Regions from separate parts of the Homo sapiens genome. Here regions 1, 3 and 4 are each reported to be linked to region 2. Evidence: microRNA targets listed by miRTarBase, many of them from high-throughput screens and not tested one by one. Region 2 holds a microRNA gene; each other region holds the end of a gene's coding sequence.
Evidence for each region. The annotated mature microRNA hsa-miR-4323 reads CAGCCCCACAGCCUCAGA and lies in region 2 at 2,431-2,448, shown strand. An mRNA with a match to its seed (bases 2 to 7 or 8) in the 3' UTR can be bound and repressed. Matches are read on the target gene's strand: a 7mer-m8 pairs with bases 2 to 8, a 7mer-A1 pairs with bases 2 to 7 and ends in A, and an 8mer does both.

Region 1: the mRNA of ARAP1 is a reported target of hsa-miR-4323. Seed matches in the 3' UTR shown: 7mer-m8 at 2,241-2,247.
Region 3: the mRNA of REST is a reported target of hsa-miR-4323. Seed matches in the 3' UTR shown: 8mer at 3,537-3,544.
Region 4: miRTarBase lists TEX22 as a target of hsa-miR-4323. Seed matches in the 3' UTR shown: 7mer-A1 at 3,805-3,811 and 7mer-A1 at 2,630-2,636.

What each region holds. Positions count from the first base shown.
Region 1 is chr11:72,683,145-72,686,144 of GRCh38, forward strand. ARAP1 (ArfGAP with RhoGAP domain, ankyrin repeat and PH domain 1) reads right to left here. Exons shown (of 35, transcript NM_001040118.3): 34 at 2,898-3,000; 35 at 1,925-2,537. The coding sequence ends at 2,520. Among named protein-coding and RNA genes, the nearest start is that of PDE2A, 10 kb to the left of the region's middle. RefSeq lists an enhancer at 1,590-2,149.
Region 2 is chr19:42,130,421-42,135,902 of GRCh38, reverse strand. It overlaps MIR4323 (microRNA 4323), which reads left to right and starts at 2,390; the gene lies at 2,390-2,458. POU2F2 (POU class 2 homeobox 2) reads left to right here and starts at 3,457. Exons shown (of 15, transcript NM_001394376.1): 1 at 3,457-3,519. The coding sequence starts at 3,492. It overlaps LNROP (long non-coding regulator of POU2F2), which reads right to left and starts at 3,274. Exons shown (of 3, transcript NR_038332.1): 1 at 3,142-3,274; 2 at 2,875-2,998. RefSeq lists an enhancer at 2,186-2,235 and a silencer at 2,516-2,775.
Region 3 is chr4:56,931,429-56,936,910 of GRCh38, forward strand. It overlaps REST (RE1 silencing transcription factor), which reads left to right. Exons shown (of 4, transcript NM_005612.5): 4 at 1-4,416. The coding sequence ends at 724. Among named protein-coding and RNA genes, the nearest start is that of REST, 26 kb to the left of the region's middle. RefSeq lists an enhancer at 5,271-5,482.
Region 4 is chr14:105,410,346-105,415,827 of GRCh38, reverse strand. It overlaps TEX22 (testis expressed 22), which reads right to left. Exons shown (of 4, transcript NM_001195082.2): 3 at 4,332-4,460; 4 at 1,969-4,168. The coding sequence ends at 3,995. Among named protein-coding and RNA genes, the nearest start is that of MTA1-DT, 6.7 kb to the left of the region's middle. RefSeq lists silencers at 473-882, 4,298-4,427, 4,528-4,587 and enhancers at 3,220-3,722, 3,723-4,226.

The sequences.
Region 1 (3,000 bases), not on the chromosome of region 2:
CTTCCTTGTCCAGGAAGCCCCTCCCTTTCCAAGAGCTGCTCCTGGCCCCTCTGCAGGTCCAGGTCTGGGGTCTTCAACTCATCCATGGCAACCCAACTTCAAATAATATGTGAATGAGCAAACCATCCAGGGTCCCAACAGGCCCCATTTTTAGGAATCCTTGCGACAAGGACCAGCAGAGCCTCCTGCCCCTAACCCATCCAACACTGTTGTCACAGGCATATTTCATTCCGGCTGAGGCCCTGAGGCTCCTGTTTGGATGTCACCCCTACCCCTTACCAGAGGGAAATCACTTTAAGCCATCACTAACTCCTGACAGTTCAGACCCCCTGCCTCAGGCCATTTCTAAGAGGAGAAAAGGGTTGGAATCAGGAGGGGAGTCAAAGAGGGAGACCCCACCAAAGTAGGGCAGGGGAAATGGACCTCAGGCCTGCTTCACGAGCATGGTGTGACCTTGGGAAAGTTGCCTCCCTTCTCTGGGCCTAGCTCCCCCTTGCCAAGAGCAGACAGTGCAGGGGGCACAGGGGCCGATTCACAGCAGGTACTTGGTAGAAGGCTGTTCCCTCCTCTTCCTGGTTCCCAGAGCCCAGGACTCCAATGCACATTCCTGTATGGTGCTGCCTTCCAGAATGTCACCAGCCTGCAGGCCAAAGGCAGAACTGGGTCCCGCTTCACACCCCAGCAGAGAAAGGTCTGGGCCAGGACCACCACTCAGGCATCCTCCAGACCCTGCTTTGATTCCAGCAATGATGAGTGGTCCATGGCTGCCGCCTTGTGGCCTAGTGCAGGACTGCAGCCAGCACGCTGAGCTGGGGCAGTGGCCTTAGCAGAGCAGGGGGCGCCTCCAGTCTCACCCACTCAGGTGGGCCTCAGGGCTGGCTGGGCAGTGCAAGGTCAGATCCAGGAGCGGATTCCAGCCCCTCAGCACTTGGATAAGGGGGTCCAACCTGTCCTGGCTGGAGGCAGAAGGGTCAGACATTCGACCTGTGGATCTGGCCAGAGCGACCCACAGGAGGTGGGAGACTCAAGGGGCTTAGCCCCAGCCTGTGAAATAGGTCAGTAGGACTCAGGGAACCGGTTCCAGTCTCCTGCCATATACCTCCCCTTCCTGAGACAGCGAGAGGGAACCTGGAGTCCAGCTCCCCAAGTCTTCCGCTGGACCCAGGCTCCCCACTGAGCTGGATGCCTGAGTCGGAGGTCACATGGCCCATCCCCACCCACTCTGCCCAGCCCCACTGGCTGAGGCTAAGGATGGAGGTCAGCCTGTCCGCCCACTGAGCCCCCGAAGAGCGGGTGGTAATGAGGCTCTAGGCAGAGGCGGGAATGTGGTGTCTGGCACCTCCCCAGGGAGTCCCAAACCCATCTCTGAGCAACTCATTATTTCCTCTGCAGGCCAGGGCCTCATCTTCTTAGTGGAGATGGCCAGGCAGTGCCCAGTGAGGGCAGCCCCCTGGTGCATGGCAGGCCCCACCTCTGGAGGGGTAGGCACTGGGGCCACAGGTGACCCAAAGGTGCTTCTTCTCAATTTCCTCAGGCTCCTGTGGCTCTGACCTTGTGTCTCCAGCAGGGGGCTGCTGCAGGGCTGCCAGGCCTGAGTCACTGACACACCACACCCAGGCCCCAGCTGGGACTCAGACTCGGACTGCAGCAGGACAGGGGCTTGTGTCCAGCCAGGGTCAGTGCTGGCCAGGAAAGGACCGGCATTCCCAGCCTGGCTGCAGGATAGTACAATGGGGAAGGCATGGAGTCAAGCCAGGGCTCTGCTTGGGGAAGGGGGTCGTCTGAATAGCTCAGGGCCTGGAGAAAGCAAGGCCTAGGTTCTCAGCTTCAGGCACTAGGCACTCACCCCTGGGCTTCCCGACCTCCTGTCCCCTCCTACCCCAGGACGCCCAATCCCCTTAGCCAATCACAGGCCTCAGCACCATAGGGTAAAATATACAGATATATTTATATTATCAAAAAGTCCCCAAATTGGGGAAGGGGCATCAGGTAGTCTGGACCCCCCACTCAGCCCAGACTGGAAGGAAGGCTGAAGTCCCCAAAGCGCAGCTCTCAGCCCTGTAGAAGCTCAGCCAAGAGCTCCCTCCCCGTGAGCTGAGTGCTCCTCTACAGCACCCGCTTTCTGCTGTTCTGGAGTTTGTTGGGAGGAGCAGGGGGCTCCCTTCCGGCAGGGCCCCAGGGCCTCACGCCTCTGAAAGGGTGGTGGTCCTCCCAAGTTCCTGACTTATGCCCATCTCTCCAGCCCCACAAGGACAGTGAACCCGGTGGGGTGAGCAGGTTGGGCCAAGAGGTCTGAACACCTGGACAGAGTTGGGAGAGGTTCCTGCCCAGGCTGACCCCTGCTGCCTCCCACCCCTGCCGGGGAACCCCATGCTGCAGTCAGGATGGAGGATGTGGGTTGTGGGGTGCAGTTTCCCATGCACCCCCCGCTGGCTCACATCAGGCCTTGGAGCATAAGGGGTGTCTGAACAGAAGGCTTCCAGCGGCGGAATCCTAGAGCCAAGGATGGGCTCCTGTGCTCAGACGTTGCGCAGAAGCTGCAGGAAGGCAAGAGACCCACAGGTATTTTGTGAAGGCCCAGAGGGGCTGGCGCCCCGCTGAAGCTGCTGCAGCTGCTGCAGCCACTCTCCACTGCCAGCCGGGGAGCACTCCAATCAGCCAGGCTCCCAGCTCCCAGGGCCAGGCAGAGGGGACTCCCAGCTTCCAGGGCCAGGCAGAAGGGGCTCCTTTGAATGGTGTGAACCAAAGAGGCCTATGAGGGCCCCCACCAAGGCTGGAGGGAGGGGGCCGGAGGGCAATCGGGGAGGGCAATCAGGGCAATCATCTACTGTGGAGTAGAAGGCAGGCACCCAGCCAGGCCCCCAGCCCCCTGCCCAAAGGCATGGAGAGCCACTCACAGACAGAGGGTCCGCGGTGAAGGCAGCCACACTCCGGCGCATTTCATTTTCACTACCTCGAAGGGGGATCAGTGACACACTACCCAGCCGGACCTCAGGCACT
Region 2 (5,482 bases):
CCTGTCTCTCCTAAAAACACAAAAATTAGCCTGGCCTGGTGGTGTGCACCTGTAATCCCGGCTACTCGGGAGGCTGAGGAGGCGTGAGATGCGCTTGAACCCAGGAGGCGGAGGTTGCAGTGAGCCGGGATTGTGCCATTGCACTCCAGCCTGAGCGACAGAGTGAGACTCTGTCTCAAAGGAAAAAAAAAAAAAAAGAGCCTGGACTTTAAAAATAAAGCTAAAGCTTAATTTAATTTTTTTTAAAAGGGGAAATAGGCTTGAGCCTAGAAGCCAGGAAAGTGGGCAAGAGTGGCAAGCAGTGTCTCGGGTGGGCCAGAGCTGAGGCTGGGCATGGTTTGAGGGTCTCTGAGGCCCACTGGGGGACCACATGGCCCTGCAGCAGGAGCAGACACACATCTCTTTGTGTATGTGTTTGTCTGCCACCCCTATCATCCTGTTTTCCTGCCACCCCTATCATCCTGTTTTCCTGCTTGTTTGGGTCCCTAGGTTAGCTTTCCCTAACCCCCCAGAGGCTGCCCCTGGCCTGGGCGCTGCTGAAGCCCCGTGTGCTTAGATGCAGCAAGGGGACTGGGCAGAGGGAGGTGGGTATCATTGAGTCTTGGGCCCAAGTTCATCTCCTGGCCCAGCCATGGACTCAGAGTATGGCCTGAGGCTTGGTCTCCCTGTCTCCTGCCAAGCTAGGGGTCTGAGGAGCCTCTCTGAGCTCCCACATGCCACAGCCCTACAGATGAGGGCAGTGCCTATGGGGAAAGAACCCTTGGGTTCCCTCACAGAGCAAGGATGATGCTGGGGGCTGAGTAGAGAGATCACCAAAGCAGCAGACATTCAGAGAGAGGCTGGGGAACTGAGCCACAGAGAGGGTCCCCAGGGGTGGCCAAGAGGAAGAGGCCATGGCTGGGGGGCCCTGAGGGGTGAAGAATCTCGCTCTGCTGTCCCCGGTGGGCTGGCTGCTCCCCCCCACCACTCCCCGCCGGGCCCCCGGGGGACCTCGCTCTAATAATGTATTTGATCGACTCGCCGGCCGCGTACAAGCGATTATTGTCTTGTCGGGAGTCAAACGTATCGATCCGGCGAGAAATATGAGCGGAGCAATGGGGCCCGCGTGTCAGTTACCAGCCCCGCTGGCCCTGGGGAGCCCCCTACGTCTCCTTTAATTACCGCTCAGCCCTGAGCCCAGCCTGGCCTCCCCTGTACCGCCTCCCTCCCAGCTCCCTGCACCTCAAGTGGCCCCCACTGCTCCCTAGCTCCCATGCCCTACCTGCCTCCCTCAGCATGGCTCGAGGCCTCTTCTGTGGCAACGAGGCCACCATCTCCCCCTGCCTTGAGCCTCCCTGTTCCAGCTGCCAGTGTGTTCCAAACTCTGCCCCTCTATCCTCTCTCAGGCAGGCCCATCCTCCTTCAAGATCCCCTCACCAGGCCCAGCTCTGGTCTGAGGCACTGAGAATGGAGCCAGCATGGGAGGCGAGAGGTGTGGGGTTGTTTCATCTCTCAGGGAGCGTATACAGCCTTCCCCGGCTCCAGGACTGAACTGCAGACCTGGCCGCACTGGAAGTGGGTGGTCCTTCTCTGCTGGCTCTAGGGGGCTGGAATGGGGTCACATCCAAAAGCGTGTTCCTGACGTGGATGATGTTGAGTCTGTCCAGGGTGGAGCATAAGGGTGGCTGGTGAGGTTTTGCCCCCCCCCATAATGTCCTATAGCCCCATTTCCAAGCCCCCCAAAACAAATCCTAACTGAAAACAAAGCTTACTGCGTAAATGTCGCTTTGAGACAAGGCTCCAGTGTCCACTGCTACCAGGCTGCTGTCGGGAAGACCCTCATGTATAGAAATCCTGTGGCCAGTTGCTGTGTGGTCTGTGGATCTCCTCTGTGAAATGGCCTTTACGATACGGGATGTTGTGGAGTGTAGATGCCGGGAAACGGTCACCTCTCGTGTGCATATATGAGAACTGCCAGTCCTTCCTGTTGTGCCCACCTGCTTGCCTGGGTGTGTCTGGGTGCACAGGGCACGTGTGCAGTCAGGGGAGGGCACTCCTGTAGTTGTGCCTGTAGTATACCCTTTCTGAGTGTGCCTGTGTGTGAGTGGGTGCGAGTGGCCAGGAAGTATGCTTGGGCACATATGTGTAGAAGTGCCCTTGTGCCCATGGGTCCATGTGAGGGAGTAGAGGAGGTATCAGTATATGGGAGTGACCATCGTCAGCAGGGAGGGCTGGTGTTGGGGCCTGTGCACATAGATGTGTTCATGCACGTGTGTGTGCACACGTGTGTGTGTGTGAAGTGCTGGGGTTCATCTGTAGAAATACTTGTGTGTGTGAGGGTGAGTCCAGGCGTCTGTGCATGCACCTGTGGTTTAGGGGGCCCCCCAGCCACGGGGCGCAGGATGTCCTGCGGGGCCCAGGCGGGCATGTGGGGTGTCTGGAGACGCCAGGCAGCCCCACAGCCTCAGACCTCGGGCACCAAGAGGAAGAGGGCAGCGGACTCGGGCGCGCCTTTGTCTGAGCTGCGGTGCGCCGGGAGTCCTGCGCCTTTGTGTGACCCTCGCAGGTGTGCGAGCGGAGGTGTTGGGAGGGTGTTGGGGAGGGGAGCGGAGGGAGGGGCTCCCTTCTCCGCAGCCGGCCCCGCCCTCCGGCCCATTGGCTGGGCGCTGCCGCCCTCTGGCGGGCACGGAGGGAAGCGCTGAAATGGGAGCGCCGCAGCGCGAAGAGCCAGCCGGCAGCCCGGGGACCTGGTGCTCCCCTCCACTGGAGCCGCCTCGGGCGCCCGCATTTGGCCGGCGACTTATTGTAGCCCCAGGCCAAGTCCCCGACCCACCGTCCCCACTACCACTGCCCACGGGCACCACTTCCTCCCAATGGTGGCACCCAACAGCTCACCTGCAGATAGGCGCAGGGCTTGCTTGATCTTCCCTGCCGCGGCGTGCTTTTAAGCTTCAACGCTTCTTGGCTCTGGGCCTTTGGGAAAGCTACTGCTCACCTCTCTGATCCTCAGTCTTTTCATCTGTAAAATGGGGCAAATAAGAGTGACCACCACATTGGAGATGGCACCTGTCAAGAGTGAGGCACAGGGTCAGGCATCGGCAAAGCCCTCTCTCCAATAAGCTGCTGGCTAGTGTTTTATTGTTGTTACTGCTGTGGACCCACCTTCTCTCCCAGACCCCCATTCCCTGTTCCAGACTTGTTTGCCTCCATGGGGGCGACAGAAGTCGGGGGGCAACTGTTGCAGGCACCTCTTGGATCGCAGCCGTAGGAGTCGGCTCTTCCAGCCTGCTTATCCTCTGCCCCACTAGCCCCCACCCCCCAGCACACACACATGATTTGGGGTGGGCCGGGCTGCCGGGGCGGGTCTGTGGGCCAGGGTATTTTCCCTTCTGAAGGGGGCGGACCGGCCCTGTGGTTTCCTCCCTGAGTGACTTCCGGCAGGGAGGGCTCGGCCCCCAGAGAGGGTGGGGAGATGACACAGTTGTTCCCCCAGCCCTGGCGGGGCGGGCAGCATGGTTCACTCCAGCATGGGGGCTCCAGGTAAGGGGGCTGGTGCCTGTGCCACTGCTCAGAGGACAGGCAGCACATTTAGGTTTGCTCTGCGGGCCCTGCCTGCCCCTCCTCCTCAGCTGTCTCCATTGTCCTTCTCCTCTGTACTCTAGCAACTCCCTCTCTCCCATGCCGGGTCCCCGCTAACCCCCACAGCTCCTCTTTGCCCTCTCTTTCCACATCAGGCACCGGAACTTCCAACATCTTCTCTTCTCTGTTGCCCTGTTCCGAAGGGTCTGGGGACGGGAGGGAGGGAGCTGGGTGTTGGTAGCGGGCCCTCATGTGGAGAACCAGTGGGGTGGGTGACATGGGCAATCCTTGGATAAGGGCTGCAAAGGGATTGGAATGCCAAGTTGCTGGACTTGGGGGATGTCATTCCCTTTTGAGTGTGTGTGTGCACATCTGGTACAGGTGTGCGTGTGCATGTGTGTGTGCAGTAGTTCTGAGTGCTCTGAGTGGGACTGCTGTGTGCTTGTGAGTGTAGGGGGCTGTTGTGTGTGGCATTGTGGGGTGATGATTGCCTGGCTCCCTTCTTCACTTCATTCACCTCAGATGTCACCTCCTCAGGGCAGCCTTCCCTGACCTCCCCATCTAAACTGGCACTGATCCTGTCACTCTCAGTCCCCTCACCCTGCTTTATCTTTTCTTCACGGCACGTATCACTGCTGGGAATTTCATTATGTGTTTGTTTGTGTGCTTATTAAATGCCTTCTCCACCAAATGTCAGTTGGCTGAGTGAACATTGTGCACCAGGCACTGTACAAGGTGATTTATAGCTGTTGGCTCATTTAGTAGAATGTGTATATGTCTGTATGGTGATGGCTATCACTCAGCAGTGTTGATGGGAGTCTTAAATGAGGTAATACATGTAGCATGCTTAGCACAGTGCCTGGAACATGGCAAGCACTCAGCCCTTCATGCCTGTTTCATTTGTGGCTGTGTAGGCATGACCATGGGCATGAGTCTTGGTTTGGTGGTGTGTGCTGTCCTATATGCGCCATTGTGTGCGGGCACCCGTGTGTCCTCCACCAACATGTATCTATTGAGTAGTTCTGTGTTGGGTGTTGGAAGTACAGTGGAAAGGGTAGCTCAGGTCTGTCCTCCTGGAGCTCCCAGTTTATTGGAGAAGACAGACCTGTCACCAATGACAGTACAGACAGGTCAGGGCTGGGATGGGGGAGGTCCAGGCAGAGGGATCAGGGCTGGGATGGGGGAGGCCCAGGCAGAGGGGTCAGGGCTGGGATGGGGGAGGCCCAGGCAGAAGGGTCAGGGCTGGGGTGGTGGGCACAGGCAGAGGTGTCGGGGTGGGATGGGGGGACAAAGGTAGAGGGGTTGGGGCTGGGATGAGGGAGGCCCCAAGCAGAGGGGTCAGGGCTGGGGTTGGGGAGGCTCAGGCAGAGGGGTCAGGGCTGGGATGGGGGGACATAGGTAGAGGGGTTGGGGCTGGGATGGGGGAGGCCCAGGCAGAGGGGTCAGGGCTGGGATAGGGGGACATAGGTAGAGGGGTTGGGCCAGGACGGGGAGGTATTAGGGGATCGTAGGAGCCCTGAAAACATGTGATTTAGTTGGTAGAGTGTCAAGGAGGGCTTCCTGGAGGAAGGGGGTGTCTGAGCAGGGATATGAAGAATGAGTGGGTATGAGCAAGCAAAGGCGGTGAGGAGAGGGGTGGGATGAAAGGAAGACTATTTGCAGGGTGACATGTTTATTTGTTGAGGTGACTGTGTATGCAACTGTGTATATGTGTGTGTGTCCATACAGTGTAGACACAGAGATCCAGGGTGTCTGCTCCCACTGACTCGTTCCTCTCTGGGGTTAAATGGGGACCTCAGAGGTGCTGGGCAGTAGGCTAAACCCTTTACTTGGGATTTCTCACAGAACAGCCCAGTGTGGGAAGACTGGGGTGAATTTTCCCTGCCTGGACATGAATTAATACACTGTGTGGCTGTGGGCAGAT
Region 3 (5,482 bases), not on the chromosome of region 2:
AGAGGATCTCTCACCACCATCACCACCACTGCCAAAGGAAAATTTAAGAGAAGAGGCATCAGGAGACCAAAAATTACTCAACACAGGTGAAGGAAATAAAGAAGCCCCTCTTCAGAAAGTAGGAGCAGAAGAGGCAGATGAGAGCCTACCTGGTCTTGCTGCTAATATCAACGAATCTACCCATATTTCATCCTCTGGACAAAACTTGAATACGCCAGAGGGTGAAACTTTAAATGGTAAACATCAGACTGACAGTATAGTTTGTGAAATGAAAATGGACACTGATCAGAACACAAGAGAGAATCTCACTGGTATAAATTCAACAGTTGAAGAACCAGTTTCACCAATGCTTCCCCCTTCAGCAGTAGAAGAACGTGAAGCAGTGTCCAAAACTGCACTGGCATCACCTCCTGCTACAATGGCAGCAAATGAGTCTCAGGAAATTGATGAAGATGAAGGCATCCACAGCCATGAAGGAAGTGACCTAAGTGACAACATGTCAGAGGGTAGTGATGATTCTGGATTGCATGGGGCTCGGCCAGTTCCACAAGAATCTAGCAGAAAAAATGCAAAGGAAGCCTTGGCAGTCAAAGCGGCTAAGGGAGATTTTGTTTGTATCTTCTGTGATCGTTCTTTCAGAAAGGGAAAAGATTACAGCAAACACCTCAATCGCCATTTGGTTAATGTGTACTATCTTGAAGAAGCAGCTCAAGGGCAGGAGTAATGAAACTTTGAACAAGGTTTCAGTTCTTAGTTTGTAAGGTATATTACATTTTATATTCATTTATGATAGCAGACAACCTTTTAAGATTGCTTTAATTAGTATCTGATGTTGATTTTTAAGTGGCATTCTTTTCCTTAGGACTTTTTATGTATACCTGTTGATTGTTGTGTAAATTTTAGTAAATCTAAGAGAGTGTACTAAACCAGCAGGTATCTGTTAGCTTATGTGTTTAATTGAAATTAGAAGGCTAAGATGGTATAACAGCATTTTATTGCTTTGTCCAGCTACAACTTGTCATTTTTTTCTCCATGTCTTATCTTCCTGTTTCACTTTAGTTTATTCTTCGTTTTTTATTGAGATCTATAAAAAATTGGCTTACTTAATAGCAAATTACTTGAAGAATTTGCCTGCTTTATATAAAGTTAGCACTTTAAGATTTTTTTTTTTAGAGATGAGAAGACATTTAAATTGAAGAAAAATTCCCCCAGCAATAGACAGTCTATCAGTCCAAGTATTTACTTCCTGAGTTTTGATCAATATTTTTTATTTGTGTATGTTAATCGTCATAAAAACAGTGATTTTGGTGTGTTTTTTATTTTGGTGCTTTAATGGCTTAAGATGTTGCACATTTTTTTTTTCTTTTGGTTTCTGTTTATGTTTTTTTGCCTATGCAGTTAAATTTTTCCTAGAAATAGCATTTGTGTTGAACAGTAACACTTTATACATATATATATGCATGTTTATTTTGTTTGGCGTCTTTGGAGGGATGCTTTTAGACTTGTTTGCAAAAGGGCAGTTTTCTTTTTCTTTGCTGCAGTTGTCTATTTTGCAGAATAATAGTGTGTGCAAGTTTGTGAGCAAATGAAATATGCAGGTTCAATCTATTGATTTTGATTTTTACATCTTATATCTATGCCAGAATCTGTATTTCATATAACTTATTTATTTCGAATGGATGTAGTAAATTCACAGCTATCAGTTTTGATTTTGCAATAAATAAACCACTAGGTTGCATGTCGAACAAATTTTTATCTCAAATACCAACCATCAGTTTTTTTTTTCATGTGTTTTGGTACAGCTAATTCCTAATTGTAGAGTGTTAAATGTTTGAGGAGAACCTTTTCTCATAGATGGTTGGTGTTCATATGGCTACTTTACAATAAAGAGAACTGTAAGTGATATTTGGAAACTACAAACCTGGAATTAGGAGATATAATTATTCCTTCAAGTTTTATAGAATATCACTTGGGAGATTCCAAAGCCATAGCTATTACGCGGCAAACCTAGGATAAGAAAGGTAGTATGAGTGCTGGTAGACCAGCTGCAACTTTCCTATACAGTGAAAAAGGCTGGTGAAACAAGTACAGTCCAGATTTTTTAAAATCATACTTTCTCAGGGATCTCCACAAACTGGTGGGTGTCCTGGCTGTCTGTGTGATAGCCTCTTTCTATAGGTGAGGCCTCAAATGAATTGCAGCTATCCTGGTGTTCCTATGAGGGCACTTTGTATGAAAAAGGGCATGTACTCCAAAACATTTTTGTAGGTTCTTTGGCCAGTTGCCAAAGAGTGTGAAAGAATCCAATAGAGGATTTTTCTTACTGATAGCAGTCATTCATTGCAGTAAAATAAAATATGATCCCATTAGGGAATCTTGAATTCTGACCTCCCATACTCCGTTTTGAAATAACCACTTTATATTTCATTTTTTAAAAATCTGATGATCTCTTTGAGGCAGGTTTCAGATTTGGCAGTACAACATGAAAGATTAGGAAAAGCATTAATAACGTGTGGGTGGAAAGCTTGTTAAAAATCTGAGAGTGAAGTTTGAGTTAAAAGTTGTTTGAACATGGCATTGACTGGGAGGCCAAAGATTTAAAGAAGCGGAAGATTCTTCTCTTAAGACATGAGGAGTAAGTTGTGTGATAATGGTATGTGTTTTGTGTGCATGAATGGACATTGTAAATGTTGAATTCTAGGCTCCGACAATCATTGTCAACAGAAGATCAAGCTGCAAATATTTATGTTTTAAAACTTAAATTATAAAGCTAGTTAAGTCTTTCTAATGACTAGTTTTAATGTTCATGGGTACATTTTACCTAAGTTACCGTTTACATTGTATAGAAAAAGATACATCTTAAGCACAGATTGGTTATTAGGAATTAGTTTGGGGAAGAGGTTTTTTTGTGGATTCTTTCATACTGCAAAGAAAAACCATTTGCCTTTTGGGGAATTGAGCTAACTTCTAATCTAGTCTTAAGACTAGAATGCTAAAAACAAAAACATGAAGGAAATTAAAACCCCTTATTATTAAATTGATTTGTAAAAACATTGTTACTGGAAATTTATTGGACTTGAGGCCTTCCTCCAGAAAATAAGGACTTGATTGTCAGGCCTATATTAGGTTCTGAACCTTAATGCCATGTATTTGTACTTACTAAAAATTGTTTCAATGAAAAGTACATTAGCAGTATGAACTTCTGGTCCAGTTGGAAGTTTTTCCATTTGAAAAATGTGATGTTTGCATGGAACTGTTTGAAACTTTTTTATTTTCTAGTCCCCCTCCCCCACACTGGATAGAATTTAGCCTAGAATTTTCCCTTTGGATAAAAGAACAAAAATTGAACATGTTATTTGTAAATTGATGTTTAGTAATTAGTGATAAACTTGAAATACTAGCATATATTATAAGCCTTAATCTTAGGTAGTCTTATGAAAATGAATCTCTTAACTATCTTTTGAACCTGTATTCACATTGGTTTTCAAGATATTTTAAGTTATATTTTTTCCTCTTTTCAGAGCTGCTTCTTATTCTGGGGCTACTTTTTTTTTTAGTTGTGTAATTCACAAAGGGCTGCATTTTTTTTTTTTTTTAATAAGGCTTATAACTATGGCTGGATCTTTTGCTCTAGTCTTCTAAGAAGGGCCATTTTATTTTTTAGAGTCACTTCTAAAGTCATGTGGTAATTAACTTTGGAGACTGTTTTGCGTATGAGTGCTGATACAAATTAAAACCCAAGTAGACCTCATTGCATGTCACCCTATGAATGTTGACAATGGAAGGAATACCTTGCCTGTAGTATACTGTCACTTCTGGATTGATAAGCTGAGGAAGAAAGTTAAGTTTCTTTTTTACATAAGTCAGAAAAACTTACAGCTGGTGTTCCTAGTTTCCTGGTTGACCTCAGCAGATGAAGTGAACAGATAGTGTTAATTCAGATTGAAGAAATTATCTGAATCTTGGTTTGTGTAGATTTACAATCTACATGCAATATTAACTAAATCAGATAGCTTTTACAGTTTCACATGTGTACATAGGTTCCCTCCCGGTCCCTTCCATATCCATTAGTTATTGAACTTTCTAAACTGGCATTGAAACATTACAACAATGTTTTGTTGCACCAATTTTATAAACTTAAGCAGTGCAATACGTGTTACTTTTCTGAGGCAAACCAAAGGTAAATTTCTCAAGGTTCTTGCTGCCTTCTTTAGCAGCATTTGATGGAAGATCTTTTATACATTTGTAATAGATAAAAATAAACCAGATTGCAAATCCTTTTTTAAAATCCTAAACCATGTACCAAGTTTTTGGTCCAAATTATGTAGGATAAGTTAAACTTAAATTGCATTCTATTAACCAATATGAGTGTATTTCTGTAAGCATAGTTATGTTGAAATAAAGTTTTAAAAACCATGATGCCTTTGTTTATTATTGGTATATCCAGAATGTAGGAAAGCCAAATTTATGTTGCTGGAACTGCAAGTGTATTAATAGGCTTTTGAAGATTATTTCTCAGGCTGGGCGCAGTGGCTCACGCCTGTAATCCCAGCACTTTGGGAGGCTGAGGCAGGTGGATCATGAGGTCAGGATTTCAAGGCCAGCCTGGCCGACATAGTGAAACCACGTCTCTACTAAAAATACAAAAATTAGCTGCGTGTGGTGGCAGGCGCCTGTAATCCCAGCTACTCGGGAGGCTGAGGCAAGAGAATCGCTTGAACACAGGAGGTGGAGGTTGCAGTGAGCCGAGATCGTGCCATTGCACTTCAGCCCAGGCGAGAGTGTGAGACTCTGTCTTTAAAAAAAAAAAAAAAAAAAGTATCACAGGTAGAAAAGTCACAGCATGTTGTCTGAGGTAACAGTCCAGTATGGGTAGTAACCCAAAGCATACACTGCTTGATGGGAGGTGCGGGAGAAATTGGACAATTCACACAAGATTTTAAATAGTAATTACTTCCCAACCACAAGTCCCCTTAATAGTTTTCATATGCATATCCCTTTTCAGTAGCAGGCCTGGAATTAGTGAATTTTGATTCATGAAGATGTTTTATTTTATGTATTTATTTTTTTTTGAAACAGTCTCTGTCGCCCAGGCTGGAGTGCAGTGTCATGATCCTAGCTCACTGCAACCTCTGCTGCCCGGGTTCAAGCAACTCTCCTGCCCCAGCCTCGCAAGTAGCTGGGATCACAGGCGCCCACCACCGCGCCTGGCCAATTTTTGTATTTCTAGTAGAGACGGGGTTTCACCACGTTGGCCAGGATGGTATCGATCTCCTGACCTCCTGATCCACCCGCCTCAGCCTCCCAAAGTGCTGGGATTACAGGCATGAGCTACCGTGCCCGGCTGTTTTTTATAAAATGAGACGGAGTTCTGTGTTGCCCAGGGTGGACTCAGATGATCCTCCCACCTCAGTCTCCCTAAATGCTGGGATTACAGATGTGAGCCACCATGCCTGGCCTGTGTGTTTTTTTTTTTTTCTTC
Region 4 (5,482 bases), not on the chromosome of region 2:
GAGCTCAAGCGATCCTCCCACCTCAGCCTCCCAAGTAGCTGGGACTACAGGAGAGCACCACCACGCCCGGCTGATTTTTGTATCTTCAGTATGGATGGAGCTTCCCTTTGTTGCCCAGGCTGTTCTCCAACTCCTGAGCTCAAGCGATCTGCCTGCCTTGGCTTCCCAAAGTGCCGGGATTACAGGCCTGAGCCACGGCGCCCGGCCATCGTAAGGAGACTTTTAAACTTGAGGTGAAGAAGCATTCATCTGCTTTTAGCAATTTTTTTCTTTAAATATTTAAAAGTCTATAAGTAGCAACTCGACACGTATTTCTGTATTTCCATTACATCCTTTTATCTCCCCATATACATTTAGAAATATCTGGGATAACCTTTAGGTAATGTTAACAGCTGTTATTCCAGGGAGGACACTGGGCGCGTTTTTAAAGCTGTATTCGTTGCTGTATTAATAGCAAGCGGTGTTTCTGCAAAGCCAAGGAAGGCGTTTCTCCAGCGGGGCCGCGTCGGGCATTGTCTGGTGCGCCGGGGAAGGCCGCGAACTACATCTCCCAGGCGCCCCGCGCCCCGTTCCGCGCCCCGCGCCCCCGCCCGCGCGGCTCCTGCTGTGGTGCCGGAGCGTCCTCGGCTCGGTCCGGAGCCAGCCGGAGTCACAATTCGAATCGGGCGTGGGAAGCCCGGGGGACCACGCGGCCAACCCTGGGCGGACCTGCGCGCCGGAGACCGCGTCCCCGGGAGCCCCCAAACGCTACCCCGCGCGGCCGCCCGTGGCGCTGCGGAGGCCTGCGGGTGGGGAGGCGCAGTGGCGGCCGGGGCGACGGCCTAAGCACCACACTACTGCTGCGAGACTTCGGGGGATCCCCACTCCCCTCCCAGGATCCTTCCCACTCCCCTCCCAGGATCCTTCCCACTCCCCTCCCAGGATCCTTCCCACTCCCCTCCCAGGATCCTTCCCACTCCCCTCCCAGGATCCTTCCCACTCCCGAGACTGCTTCTTCTGTCCCCTTGATTCCACGCGCCTCAGAGACCCTCCCTCTGCCGTCCCGCGAAGAGCGCGCCCCTCCCCTTGCAAGGTGGGCTTCACATGCGCTCCCGCCGCACGCACCCTCCTCTGCCCCCGGGTTTCCTGCCGGGCCCTCATGGTTTGGGGCTGCCCATGCATTGCGGGATCCTGAGCAGCACAGCGCCGCCGCCTCTGCCCACCAGGTGCCGGCAGCCCCTGTGGAAGGCAGAATGCCCCTCTCACAGATACTTGTGTACAAATCCCCAGAACCTTGGAGCAGGCTGGGTTAACTGGGTTAAGTGGCAGGTTAGGAAGGGGGCTAACCAGTTCACCCGAAAGCAGGCAGGCGACCCTGGATCTTCCGGGTGGGCCCAGCGTAGCCACAAGTGTGTTTCAGGGTGCAGGAGGGAGGCAATGGAGAGGTGGGCAGAGAAGGGCAGGGCAGAGAGGGGCTCGGCCGCTCCGAAGGAGGCCACAACTACCAGCCAAGGAATGCAGGTGGCTTCTTGAGGCTAGAAAAAGGGAAACAGGGTCTCCCCTGGCACCTCCAGAAGGAACAGAACTCTGCCAACCCCTCATTCTGAGCCCAAAGATACCCATTTTGAACTTCTACAAAACTTAGCTAATACATTTGTGTTGTTTTAAAACACTCAAAGCCAGGCACCAGTGGAACACTCATGTAACCCCAGCTACTCAGGAGGCCGAGGCAAGAGGATTGCTTGGGTCAAGGAGTTCAAGACCAGCCTGAGCAACATACCAAGACTGTTTCTCTATAAAAACTTACAAAAAAAAAAATAAAGGCCGGGTGTGGTGGGATGCACCTGCAGTCCCAGCTACCCAGGAGGCCAAAGTCGGGGGATCACTTGAGTCCAATAGTTCAAGACCAGCCTGGGCAACATAGCAAGCCTGCCCCCCGCTCCGCCCCAACCACCAAAAAAAGAAAAAAGAAAAAGAAACCAAACCTACTGAATTTGTGGCAATTTTTATGGCAGCTACAGAAAACTAGTACACAAATCCCAGTTGTGACAACCTAAGCGGTCTCCAGGCACTGCCCCTGTCCCGGCACCACCTCTGTTGGAGAGGCCTGTGCCTCTCAGTGCCAATACCCTGCTGCCAGCTGGCCCTGTGGCCACCTTACCCACCAGGAGACTGGCTCTGGGCCTCAGCCTGAAGGAGGCCAGGGTTTTGTCTCTGCTGCCACCATGGGGGAGGTGCTCTGTAGGGAGACCTCATGGAGCAGAGAGGGCAACCATCCCAGCATCACCAGCATCCTGGACCACCACGCTCTGACTGCAGCCTCAGGAGACACTCAAACGAGAGCAGGAGAGCTGGCAGGATGAGCCCAGCCAACCCCCAAGTCACAGAACAACGAGTGGTTCTTTAAAGCCACTCAGCAACAGAGGACTGCCCAGCTCATCACCCCCATGGCAACTGCTTACCTGTCAGCTCCGCTCTGCCCTGTTTACACCTGGGGATGCCTGCCTGGCATGCAGCTGGGCCCATAGGATCCCATTCCCCACATCATCATCAGGGGCCTCAGAGGGGGTGGGTCATGACCCAAAACTCCCCACACCCTTAAGGACAGTGCCCTGCCCAAAACTCCCCACACCCTTAAGGACACCTGCCCTAGCCCCTGGAGGATCTGCCCTCCATCCACCTACCCTAGGGCTCCTGAGAAATGCAGAGGATCCCTAGGGTGCACCAAATGACATTCAGAGGACTTGGGAGAGAAGGGGAGCACCTGGCTGTGTAATCTTGGAAGGCTTCCTGAAGGAGGAGGGAACTTCACTGAGTCTTACAGTAAGAAGGGGAGACAGGCAGGTGCAGAGGATTCAACTCGGGCCAGGGATCCTGTGTCAGGGCAGCAGGTGGCTGGCAGTGCAGTCAGGTGGCTTCTCAGCAGCGGGAAGGGGAGGGTTACAGGCCAGGTGGGCAGCACAGCCAGCATGTAGTGTATCTGGTGGTCCAGGCCACCGCACAGGTCCAGCTCCTGCCCTCACCTGGAGCCCAGGAGTGATCACCTCCGCTTGCCCCAAAGCCTCCTCCACCTAGCCACCTCCACAGAAGCCCAGTCAGGCCCCTAACAGTCAGTCACAGAGTTCAGGGCCCTTTCCCCACCCCCACCCACCCCGGGCTGGGAACCCATGCTCACAGCTCTCCTGCCCCGCCTCCCAATCCAGTCCCCCTGCAACTTAGTGTCCCCAAAATGCAGCTGGGACACGTTACCCCGGCTCAGCACCCTTCCGAGGGCCCTGCAGCCTGGAAACGAGGCAGTCACCCAGTGGACCATGTCCCACAGGCCCCTGCGGCAGCCAGCTCCTCACAGTTGCTCAGACCCCCTGCGCAGGATACCCTCTTGGCCCTCGTCCACCACCAGCATCGCTGTCCAGAGGCCAGGAGGCATCTCTGCCTCCAGACAGCCTCCCTCTGTGCTGGGCACTGCATTGGGTCCCTGGGCTTGCTGCTCCCCACCACAGCACCCCTGGGGTCCCGTGTGCCCTTCTGGGTCTTCAGAGGCAGGACCCAATGTGAGACCCCGCCCCCTGGAGAACTCTGCCTGGCCCATCTCACAGCCTGGTGCAGGCAGATACCCAGTTCCCCAGACCAGGCCAGCCAAGGAGCTGAGTCTCCAGGCAGCGCCTGCCACTGGGGCTTCCCAGGACACCAGTGCACCTCAGGCAGGCCCAGGTACCCCAGGCCTCCTCCCAGCGGCCCCGAGGGCAAGCTCCTGCTACCCAGGCCTTGCCAGGGCCCTCTCAGACTGACCCGGGGCAGTGTTCCCCTCCCCTAGATGGCCTCCCATAGCCCCTAGCCCGGTCTCCAAGGCCTCAGCAGCTGCAGGCTGTCCGGAGCCAGGTCCTGCCTGGCCTGTTTTCCTAACATGGGTGGGTGGTGACCCCCTGGTGGGGCACAAAGAAGGCGCAGAGGCTGCCCCCACCGTGGGCCCCCAAGGAAAGGCACTGGAAGACAGACAATGGGCTGAATGGGGCTCTTAGGAAGGGGGTGACCTCGAGGCCTCGAAAGTCGCATTATGCCAGAAAGGCGCACTGCGCGCCAGGAAGGCCTGGAAGGCGTTGGTGGACTCGGTGGACCTCAGCGGGTGGGGAAGGAGCACGTCCTTGTCCACGTCCTCCGACACCAGCTGGGCTACCATCTGCACGACGTCCTGCGGGCGAGGGTGGTCAGGGAGCCTCGAGGGGCGGGAAGGGGACAACGGCGGGGCCCGGGAGCGCCGGGGTAAAGGGCCCAGTGGGACTGAGTCGAGGGAGGCGAGGCGGAGGGGCGGGGCGGGGCGGGGACGGGGCGGGGAGGACCCGCCCCCCGCGCACCCTGCAGTGCAGCTGGGTCCCGGCGGCGCCCGGCCTCTCCCGGCCGCCCAGCGTGGCCAGCCGCCGGCGCTCGTCGATGCTGACGCTCCAGCGGCGGCCCGGGCGCCTGCGTTCCGGCGGCTCGCACACCTGGGGGACAGGGCAGCGGGTCGGCGAGGGCCTCGGCGCCAGCTCCCCTTCGCCGCTCCCACCCAGCACCCGCCGACCCTCAGAGCTCGCCCCCGGGCGCTTTCTAAAGCGCCGTCTGCTCAGCCTCCCGCTGCTCCAGCGCCAGCTCCCGGCGCGGGGCCTCAGGCAGTGTGGCCCTCTGTGGCTTTGCACAGTCATCTGTGCCAGGACACCGCCCAACCCAGTACCTGCCCCGCTTCATGTACAGCAGGGCTGCCTGTGGACCGCTTAGTCCTCACGGCCGGCCCCCGGCTTGACCGGCAGGAGAACCCCCGGAGCTCGAGCACTGATGCGTGCCTCAGGAAAGGCAGGACTAAGGCCAGCTCCAGACTGCCCTTCTCCCCAGACCCCTCTGAAATGATCATAAAGAGAGTTCGGGAGAAAATAAAGATCATGAATCCATAGACAAAAGACCAGCGCCAGTGGAGGAGGGCCCCTGGCAGGGTACAGGAGACTGGAGGGCAGGGACCACCAGCTGGAGAAGCTGTGGGAGGGCCACAGGGAAAGGCCAGAAGCAGGTGAGGTCCCCAGCACGACCTCTATCCCCCAAGAAGGAACTTCCCACGTGGGCTGCAGGAGACGGTTCCTCCAGACTCTGCTCAGCCTGAGGTTCACCATCCTCCACCTCCCTCACCAGGGGGAAGGGGAGAGGGGAGAGAAGGCAGTGCCATGCTAAGAGTGGGATTCATGCAAACCCGAAGTGAATTCTCATTCCTCAAAACATTAAAATCAGAATTGCATGGGATCCAGCAATTCCGCTTTGGGGTATGTACCCAAAAGAGTTGAAGGCAGGAAGGCAAACAGATGTGCGCACTCCAACACAGCAGTGGTCATTATTCACAATAGCGAAAATGTGGAAGGAATCCAGGTTTCCACAATGGATCAATGGATAAAGAAAATGTGGCAGATCCAGAAAATGGAATATTATTAAGCCTTAAAAAGTAAAAAGGCTGGCCGGGTGTGGTGGCTCATGCCTGTAATCC